Linked DNA regions of Homo sapiens: all the other regions are linked to region 1. Evidence: fine-mapped expression QTL. A gene starts in region 1. Each other region holds a variant in brackets. All regions are shown on one strand. Distances are between the middles of the regions. Region 1 holds the start of PLCB1 (phospholipase C beta 1). Region 2 overlaps PLCB1 (phospholipase C beta 1). Region 3 overlaps PLCB1 (phospholipase C beta 1).

What was found. PIP is the estimated chance that this variant, and not a neighbour inherited with it, causes the effect.
Region 2: its variant is the best candidate, but not a certain one, in a credible set for the expression of PLCB1 in whole blood (TOPMed, PIP 0.63).
Region 3: its variant is the best candidate, but not a certain one, in a credible set for the expression of PLCB1 in neutrophils (BLUEPRINT, PIP 0.54).

What each region holds. Positions count from the first base shown.
Region 1 is chr20:8,130,707-8,133,470 of GRCh38, forward strand. It overlaps PLCB1 (phospholipase C beta 1), which reads left to right and starts at 1,560. Exons shown (of 32, transcript NM_015192.4): 1 at 1,560-2,044. The coding sequence starts at 1,946. RefSeq lists a silencer at 1,646-1,785.
Region 2 is chr20:8,440,701-8,443,464 of GRCh38, forward strand. All of the region lies in intron 3 of PLCB1 (phospholipase C beta 1), which reads left to right. LOC124900459 (a long non-coding RNA gene) reads left to right here. Exons shown (of 2, transcript XR_007067518.1): 2 at 1-2,764. Among named protein-coding and RNA genes, the nearest start is that of PLCB1-IT1, 190 kb to the left of the region's middle. The variant T/C (reference allele first, on the strand shown) is at 1,272.
Region 3 is chr20:8,456,310-8,459,073 of GRCh38, forward strand. All of the region lies in intron 3 of PLCB1 (phospholipase C beta 1), which reads left to right. LOC124900459 (a long non-coding RNA gene) reads left to right here. Exons shown (of 2, transcript XR_007067518.1): 2 at 1-2,764. Among named protein-coding and RNA genes, the nearest start is that of PLCB1-IT1, 210 kb to the left of the region's middle. The variant A/G (reference allele first, on the strand shown) is at 1,411.

The DNA.
Region 1 (2,764 bases):
TAATTTATTTAAAACAAACTGCACTCAATTTAGGCGTACTTACAGAACTTACAAGTTTTGATAAACACACACACGATATAGAACATTTCCGACATGCTCATCAGGTGCTCGTAGCCCTTCCCTGTCCATCTCTACCTATCCCTGGCCACAGGCAAGCTTTCTGTCAACATAGAATATCTTGCCTATTCTGCAATTCCTACACATGGAATCAGGCAGCATACAGTCTATCGTGTCCGGCTTCTTTTACAAAGCTTAAAGTCGCGATTCATCCCTGATCTTGCATGCCCACTCATTTTTATTGTGGAATAGTATTCCAATATTTGGGCATACCACAGTTTGTTTATCCATTCACCTGTTGATTGACATTTGCAGGCTACTAAGAAGAAAGTTCTTCACATCACTTTACAAGTCCCTGCAGACTTGAACGTTTTCATTTCTTTTGGACAAATACTTAGGAGTGGAATTTCTAGGTTGTATGATAAGTAAATATCTTACTTTATAAGAAACTATTCTCCAAAGTGGTTTTACTATTTTATATTCCCTCCAGCAATGAACAAGAGTTCCAAGCTATTTCTCTCTCCGCCCCCCCACCTCCCGCGTGTGTCTCTCTCTCTCTCTCTTTCTCTCTCTCACACTCACTCACTCTCTCTCTCCCTCTCCTCTCTCTCCTTAATAAAAAAAAAAAAAGAGTTCCAGTTGCTCCACATCCTTTCAAGCATTTGGTATTACCAGTCTTTAAAATTTTATCCATTCTGGTCCTCCTCTTTCCCTTCTTCCCTCCCTCCCTCCCTTTCTTTCTTGAATTGAGAAATGTTTGTGGAAGGAGTGAAGACAAACATTCCTGGACCTATGTTCCTAAATGAGCAAGTTTCTATTAATAAGACTCTCCCCCACCCGCCACACATCCTACACACTCAAGGAGAGGAGCGGGAGAGGGCACCCTCTTTCTTCCTCGGAAAATAAAACCTTTGCTTTCTTTAGGATGGGCTTTCTGTCTCGAAAGCACAACGTAACCGTTTGCCCGGGTTTCAAGATCAGCGCGCTGCAAACTCTCAGGCGCGGCCAGGTTTCCTCAAAGAGCCTCTCAACTGCGCTCTTCTCTGCTGATAAATGATAATTCTCTTCAAAAAGCTGGTTTGTGGCTGGCGCTGGAGAGCTCCAGCTAGAGCCAAAAGCCAGGGGTTGCCTCTTTGGTTCCTCCCGATGGGCCCCTTTTCCCAGCCAGTTGGGATCCAAAGACGCTCCGGAGCTCGAGCCCAAATTCCCAAGAAAACCCCAAAGAGCGTAAGGCTCCTGGGGACCCCTAGCACCTCTGCAACCAGGGCACGGGGCATGCTCAGAGCGAATGCGGGAGGCAGGCGTTGGCTGCAATGGGGCTCGGGAGCCAGGAGGTGCCGCTGCGTCCCCGCTTCCTGGCGCCTGACCCAGCGTGCAAAGTTGGGCTGGGAGCCGCGGGGGGAAGGAAGGACCCAGCGAGCGAGGGTGGCGGGGAAGGGGGGCGGGGGGGAGGAGGAGGGAGGAGGGAAAAGAGCGGTTAGGGGGGGCGCCGGGCGTGTGTCACTCGCTCTCTCCCTCTGTGTATAGAGGATGTGCTGAATGGTGCGCTTTGAGGCGGCGGCGGCGGAGGAGCAGAATCCGCCGCGACTGGCAGCCTCGGCTGACCGGCTCGGCTTCTCTTCGCCTTCCGAGGCTCCTCATCCACCGCGGGCTCCAGACCTCGCGTCCCGCCCGGGGCATGGCCGGGCGCTGCGCCCCCGCGCGCTCTGCCTGCTGAGCGGCGCCGGAGGGAGGTGCGGAGGCCGGGAGGCCGGGGAGGCCGGCGGGGAGCAGAGTCGAGCGCCTCCGGAGCAGAGAAAGGAGCCCGCGCCCCGCGCCCCGCGCCCCGCGCACGGTCCCCAGTCCCTGCCGCGCTCGCCCGGGCCGCCCGGAGCCCAGATGAGCCCAGATGGCCGGGGCTCAACCCGGAGTGCACGCCTTGCAACTCAAGCCCGTGTGCGTGTCCGACAGCCTCAAGAAGGGCACCAAATTCGTCAAGTGGGATGATGTAAGTATTGGGGCGGCCCGAGTCGGGGCGCTGGCTCGGGCACCGGGCAGGGCGGGCGTCGTGGGGGTGGGGCAAGGGGCGCGTTATGCAATGGGCGCACTGGGAGCGGGCAGGGGCAGCCTCGGGCGCACAGGTTGGCATCTGCCAAAGCGGATGTCCAAGGGCAGAAGCTTTGCGCGCGCTCCTGTTTCATCGGGCTTCAGTAGTTGCCATCCTTTCTGGGTCTGGCAGGCGCCCCCTGAGGGTCTTACATCTTTTGGGCCAGTGGAGAGGGAGGGGCAAGCTTTGCCTGGTGACAGGTCCTGAGAGTTCGGAAAGTAGGGAGTGTGAAGTTGGGACCAACTGGAAAGCGCCTGGTGTGAACAAATCGCGTCCCTCTCCGCCTGCGGACGCACCCCCTATTACCTCTTTTGCCCGATTTCAAGAAGGAAGGACCTGAAGTTCAAAACACTTTAGTGATTGCGAACCCTCTTGGCGCTTTTGTGGGAGCCAAGGCGGCGGAGGACACAACGGTCCAGCCAACAGGTGGTCGTTGATGCCAAACTTCAGCGCCTGGCTCCGGAGTGAGGGTCCCTGAAAAGGGCTGCGGGGACACATCTGGGGAGGGCGTGAACAGAATGGGGGCCCTTGAGGGGTCCTGGAGGGCTCATGGGCCTGCAGGCAAGTGGGGAGGGCTGACTTTTGAGAACTGAGCTGATTGGAGTCTTCTGCCTGAAATAG
Region 2 (2,764 bases), 310 kb after region 1:
ATAGGAGGAATAAATTCTAGTATTGTATAGCTTTGCAGGAAGACTAAAGTTAACAATCATATGGTATATAGTATCAGATAGCTAGAAGGAGGATATTTAATGTTCCCCACACAAAGAAATGATAAATGTTTTTGATTTTATATATATATATATATGATAATTACCGTGATCTGATCACTATATGTTATATGGATCGAAACATCACTATGTACTCCATGAATATATACAATTATTATGTGTCAATTTAAGAAATTAAATTAAAAAGAGAAATTAACCCAGCCTCACCATTTTACAGCAGAGGGACTTGAGGTGGAAAAAATTCAAGAAACTTTACTCTCGTCATTCAACGGAGTGATCTTTTGAAAAAGGTAGCATTACAAGAAATCCAGTATATACCCACAAATACGTGGCCACATTTCTTGACAATGTTCCAATTATTATTGATATCTACAATTAGAATTAAATCGTTGTTTCTAACCAGTAATATTCCAAGTAAAGTAGTAACATTGTTTATTCATTGGCATTAGGCATCTATGGTTAGCTCTACAGAATTATAGTTGAAATCTATGTGAAAATATCAATTTTTACACTTACCGACCATAATAGGATACTTACAGAAGAGCTTGATACCAGACTGTCAGCCAAAGATTTTCTGAATTTGGTATGAATTTTCTAAAGGTGGAGTGATTTGCTTCAAGAGAAAATTGCTTTGAGTGCATTTTGCAGTCAAGAACTTTGACACCTTGCAATTTACTAGTTGCAAAGATAATCTGATCACAAAGTAAGAAATCTGATCGTTGTAATTCCAATTTATATCAATAAGAAATAATAAATAATCTTTATTTTGGAGGTTTGCTAAGTGACTGAAAGTTTATCTAAATACAGACGGTTTTGCATGAACGCTAGGGACTGAATGAAACACTGTTTGCCTACCAATTAACCAGGCAGGTGTGAAACATAAGCAGTGACCGACCATAACAGACGATCTCTCAGATATTGATCACTCTTTTAACAGAAAAATTCCTATGGGCAGATAGAGGAGGGGGAGAGGGCAGCATTCTCTTGAGATTGTCTTAGGGAAGGATGATCATGAAACTCTTTATATCTGAAAAAAATTTTAAATCCTTTTAAATATCAATCCAGGAGGATTAGCTAAGCAGCAATAAAGCACCTTATAACTGTTACATAGTTAATTCAAAGAAGCATTGTATCAAGATAAATAAATATAGAAAACAAGGAATCCATTTTCAAGAAACATACTTTGTTCTAGT[T/C]CTGACTTCAGATTTAAAACACACACACATACGCAGAAGACACACTGAATATGATTGAATCTAGAATATAGAAATAAAATAATTGAATATATTCCATTTGTTAATGTGTGCATGTGTTTTCAAGACATGGCTCAATGATTCTGTAGTTTTTTCCTTATTTTTATTTTGAGAATTTTCTAGAAAAAATATGTCTTAAATACTTAATTTTTACTTCTTGGTTATCTTAGTCCATTTGTACTGCTACAGCAGAATACATGAGATGATAATTTCTAAAGAACAGGAATTTATTTTCTCACAGTTCTGAATACTGAGATGTTCAAGGGGCCGGCAGGTTTCGTTGTCTGTGAGGGTGGCTCTCTGCTTCCAAGATGGTTCCTCTAGAGGAGGGAACACTTTGTCCTGGCATGGTGGGATGTGGGCTCAAACCCTGTATGAAGCCTCTTTTATAAAGGCCTTAATCTCATCTTTGAGAGAGGAGCCCTCATAACCTAATCAGCTCTTAAAGGTTCTACCTCTTAATACTATCACAATGGCCATTAAGTTTCAGCATCTGAATTTTAGAGGGGACATACTGAGGCAATAACAAACATTATGTTTTTGAGAAGGTCCCATTTTTTCTTAATTTAAAGCTCAGTCCAATGAATATCTGTAACAAAGGGTTAGTGAAATCCCAGTCCAAAATTATCATCTTTTGAAGGTAATTCAGATGGACATTTCTTGAGTTATCAAAATGTATAATATTATCTATTCAAATCTTTTCTGTTTTATTAATTAAACTCAGGAGATTAAAGTACCTTGCCATGACATTGAAACTAGTAAAACAGCCAAATATGAAAACCAAGCATGCTGGGAAAATCCTAATAATGATGGAATGGCTACCAAGTCTTTGTTATTCCCTTGGATAGTAGCACACCTTGGAAAGACTTAGCAAAGCCCAGATTTCAGGAAAGTAGAAAAATTGCATTTAATGCTTTGATTATAAAATTATCTTGTGAGTTTCTTGTTTTTTTTTTTGTTTTTTTTTTTGAGATGGAGTCTCGTCCTGTTGCCCAGGCTGGAGTGCAGTGGCACGATCTCAGCTCACTGCAATATCTGCATCCTGGGTTCAAGCGATTCTCCTGCCTCACCTTCTCGAGTAGCTGGGACCACAGGTGTGCGTCACCACACCCAGCTAATATTTTTGTATTTTTAGTAGAGATGGGGTTTCACCATATTGGTCAGACTGGTCTTGAACTCCTGACCTCGTGATCTGCCCGCCTTGGCCTCCTGAAGTGCTGGGATTACAGGCGTGAGCCACAGCACCTGGCCATCTCGTGAGTTTTAATGCAACTGGCAGTTGACTGTGGGTCCTAACCATGGGCTCTGTTTTTCTCAAATGTAAAATTATTGGCCGATGTGGAAGACCATCCATCCTGTAGGGTGAGGCCCTGCTTTTTATAAGGTAATGGAAGAGTATGCTATTCAATATCAAGTTAAAAATAACTTTTACCAGT
Region 3 (2,764 bases), 330 kb after region 1:
GAATGTGCTTGTACCCAGCAGTGTTAAGTAAATTCCGATCTTTGCTGTGAATTGCGAGTGAAAAGTTTGGGGTGAGTATTTTATTTTTCATTGAGAAGTGAAATAATTGTTAGTTTGTTTAGTAGCACTGGTTTTTGGGAATTTTTTTTCTTTTTTGTCTTTACACATTGCAGAGTAGCAGTAAAGAAATAGGTTGGTCTTTTAAAGGGTGTATTTCCTGCTTTTAATAAACACAAGTTTTATGAGAAAAATAAATAAATTTCAATATAAAATTAAGATGTACAGAATATAGATTTAGCACATATAAAAAAGGAAACAAAAATCATTTTACCTTCACTTTAGCCTGGGCTGATTTAACAAAACACCATAAACTGGGTAGATTTTTAACATCAGAAATTAATTTCTCATAGTTCTAGAGGCTGAGAAGTCCAAGATCAAGGTGCTGGCAGATTTGGTGTCTGGTGAGAGCCCACTACCTCACAGATAGCCTTCTTCTCACTGTAACTCACATGGGAGAAGTGGCCAGAGAGCTCCCTGGGACCTCTTTTATAAGGGCACTAATGCCATTCAGGAGGGAGGGCATCACCCTCAGGACCTCATGACTTCCCCAAGGCTCCATGTCTGAACATCATCACCTTGGGGGTTAGGATTTCAACATATGAATTTTGGATTGGGACATAAAGAGTCTACTGCAAATTTCTTCATGTCAGTCACATTTTAACCAAAATCATCTTACATGGACTTCTCTAGAGGTAGTTATATTTTTTAACCAACTGCACTTTTATATGATAACATATTTTTATATGCCACCTGCAAAAGGGCTACCTAATGAGGCCACCTATTTTTTGTAAGTGTAAGAGACTCAGCTGGAAGCAAGTTCAAGTGTGAAGCACTGTCCCCTCTCTACCTGGGACATGGTGCATACAAATGGGAGTAACATGAGCTTTGCAGGGGTCATCTTGGCCTCCTGTCCCACCTCCACCACTTACCAGTCATCATTCATTATTGTTATTCCATGAACAATGCCACCCACAAACCCAGAGTGACTCTCAGTTCATTGCTTGTCTTCACCCAGCGTAATGCCAGTTGTGTGTCCTTAACATCTTTCTCATCTCCTTATTTTGTCCTCACTTCTCTCCCCACTGCCAATGTTTAGGCCTGCAGCAACGATTTCCTAAATTGCCCACCTTCCATCCAGCTTCCATCACACTGCTAGAGTAACACTTCAGAAAATCCAAGTTCAATCCTATTAAAATCTTATTTTAATCAGTCGTCTATTTAATTATTTTTATTATTGCCCATTACTAGGATAGAGAATTCCAAGTTTGTCAAGTAATGAACTGCATGATATTCCTGGTCTCTTTATTCAAAGTCATCTCCTACTTATACCCCTAATGTGTGCGCGCACAC[A/G]CACACACACACACACACACACACACACGTACACACCATCTTGCCTTCCAGGCACCCTCAGCCACCTTTACTACTCCTGGCATGCTGTCTCCTGCACAAGTCTCATTGCCTTTACCCTCTGTGGAATTTCCCTCTCTGTGCTCTTACCAGATCACTTTATAAAGTTATTTTTAAATATGCTTGTGAAAATAAATGAAGATCACATGAACAAGAACAGAGGTGATTTATTTAGAGTTTGCAAGAGAATCAACCACTATCAGTTGCATTTGGCACAGACTTAAAGGAACACAGAAAGATAGGAAACCTTTAGAGTGAAACAAAGAGCAGGTTCCAGGTACGCTGTGGCATGAGGAAGCTGGAGTTGAGCTAACTAGATGTGAACATCTGATGTGGTTGGTTTGGGAAGCAGATCTTGCTTCCTCCGGTTGATTCTGAGTTGAAAGGAGGGAGCCAAGAATAGGGAAGCTGGCAGTCATTGACTGTATCGTGACTGTTGGGGCCAGTTGCTGTAGAGGTTGTGGTTTGGCTTCCAGCTGGTTGCTGCAGAGGTGGTGCTCAGAATTCTGTTGTCATATATTGTCTGGCCATTGTCCGTTTGTATATTTCATCTCTCATGATCAATCAATATTTTTTGAATGAGTACATGAATATTTCATCTCAGTAAGTGATCATTCCCTCCTCATCCATCTTAATCATAAAATTCTAATGTCCTAGGTTCTTTATCTTTCAACAAATTATGTTTCCCTTTCTTAATGGGTAGAAAAAGGAAGCTTCCCCATAGGCCTAAATGTGCTGATTTCAAGAGAAAGCATACTTCTTTGCAACAAGAAATTGCCCAGGCCTTCACTCTTAACCACTATGCTACATCAACGTCCTTAGATGAAACAGAGACTTGGGGGCATATATTTCCCAATTTTTCAAAATCCATTTTTATCGCATATTCAATTTGGCCTGCTTACCTTATTTACATTACCTGTCTGGGATGAAAGACATTTGAGGTTGTCATTCTGGACTCTTAAGTAAGTTCTTCCTTTAAAGTAAAGAAGCTGACCTTCCAAGCTAATTTATCCCACTTAACAAGAGTAATAATAACACACCACCCACTCCAGAAAGGAAATCATGCAGATGAATGAAATAATGTTTGTACAGAGCTTGACACTCCATAAAATACTCTAATAACATGGTGTCTACACTTTGAAATGTTCAAATCCTATTTCAATAGAATTAAAAGCCATGAAGAATAAAATGTGAATTGCTTGTCAGACTTTTACATAGAGGTGCAGGGTGATACTGATGCCATTAGACAATTTAAAAGCTGGGTTTTAGCAAAGTTTCTGAGGAATCTGATTGGTTT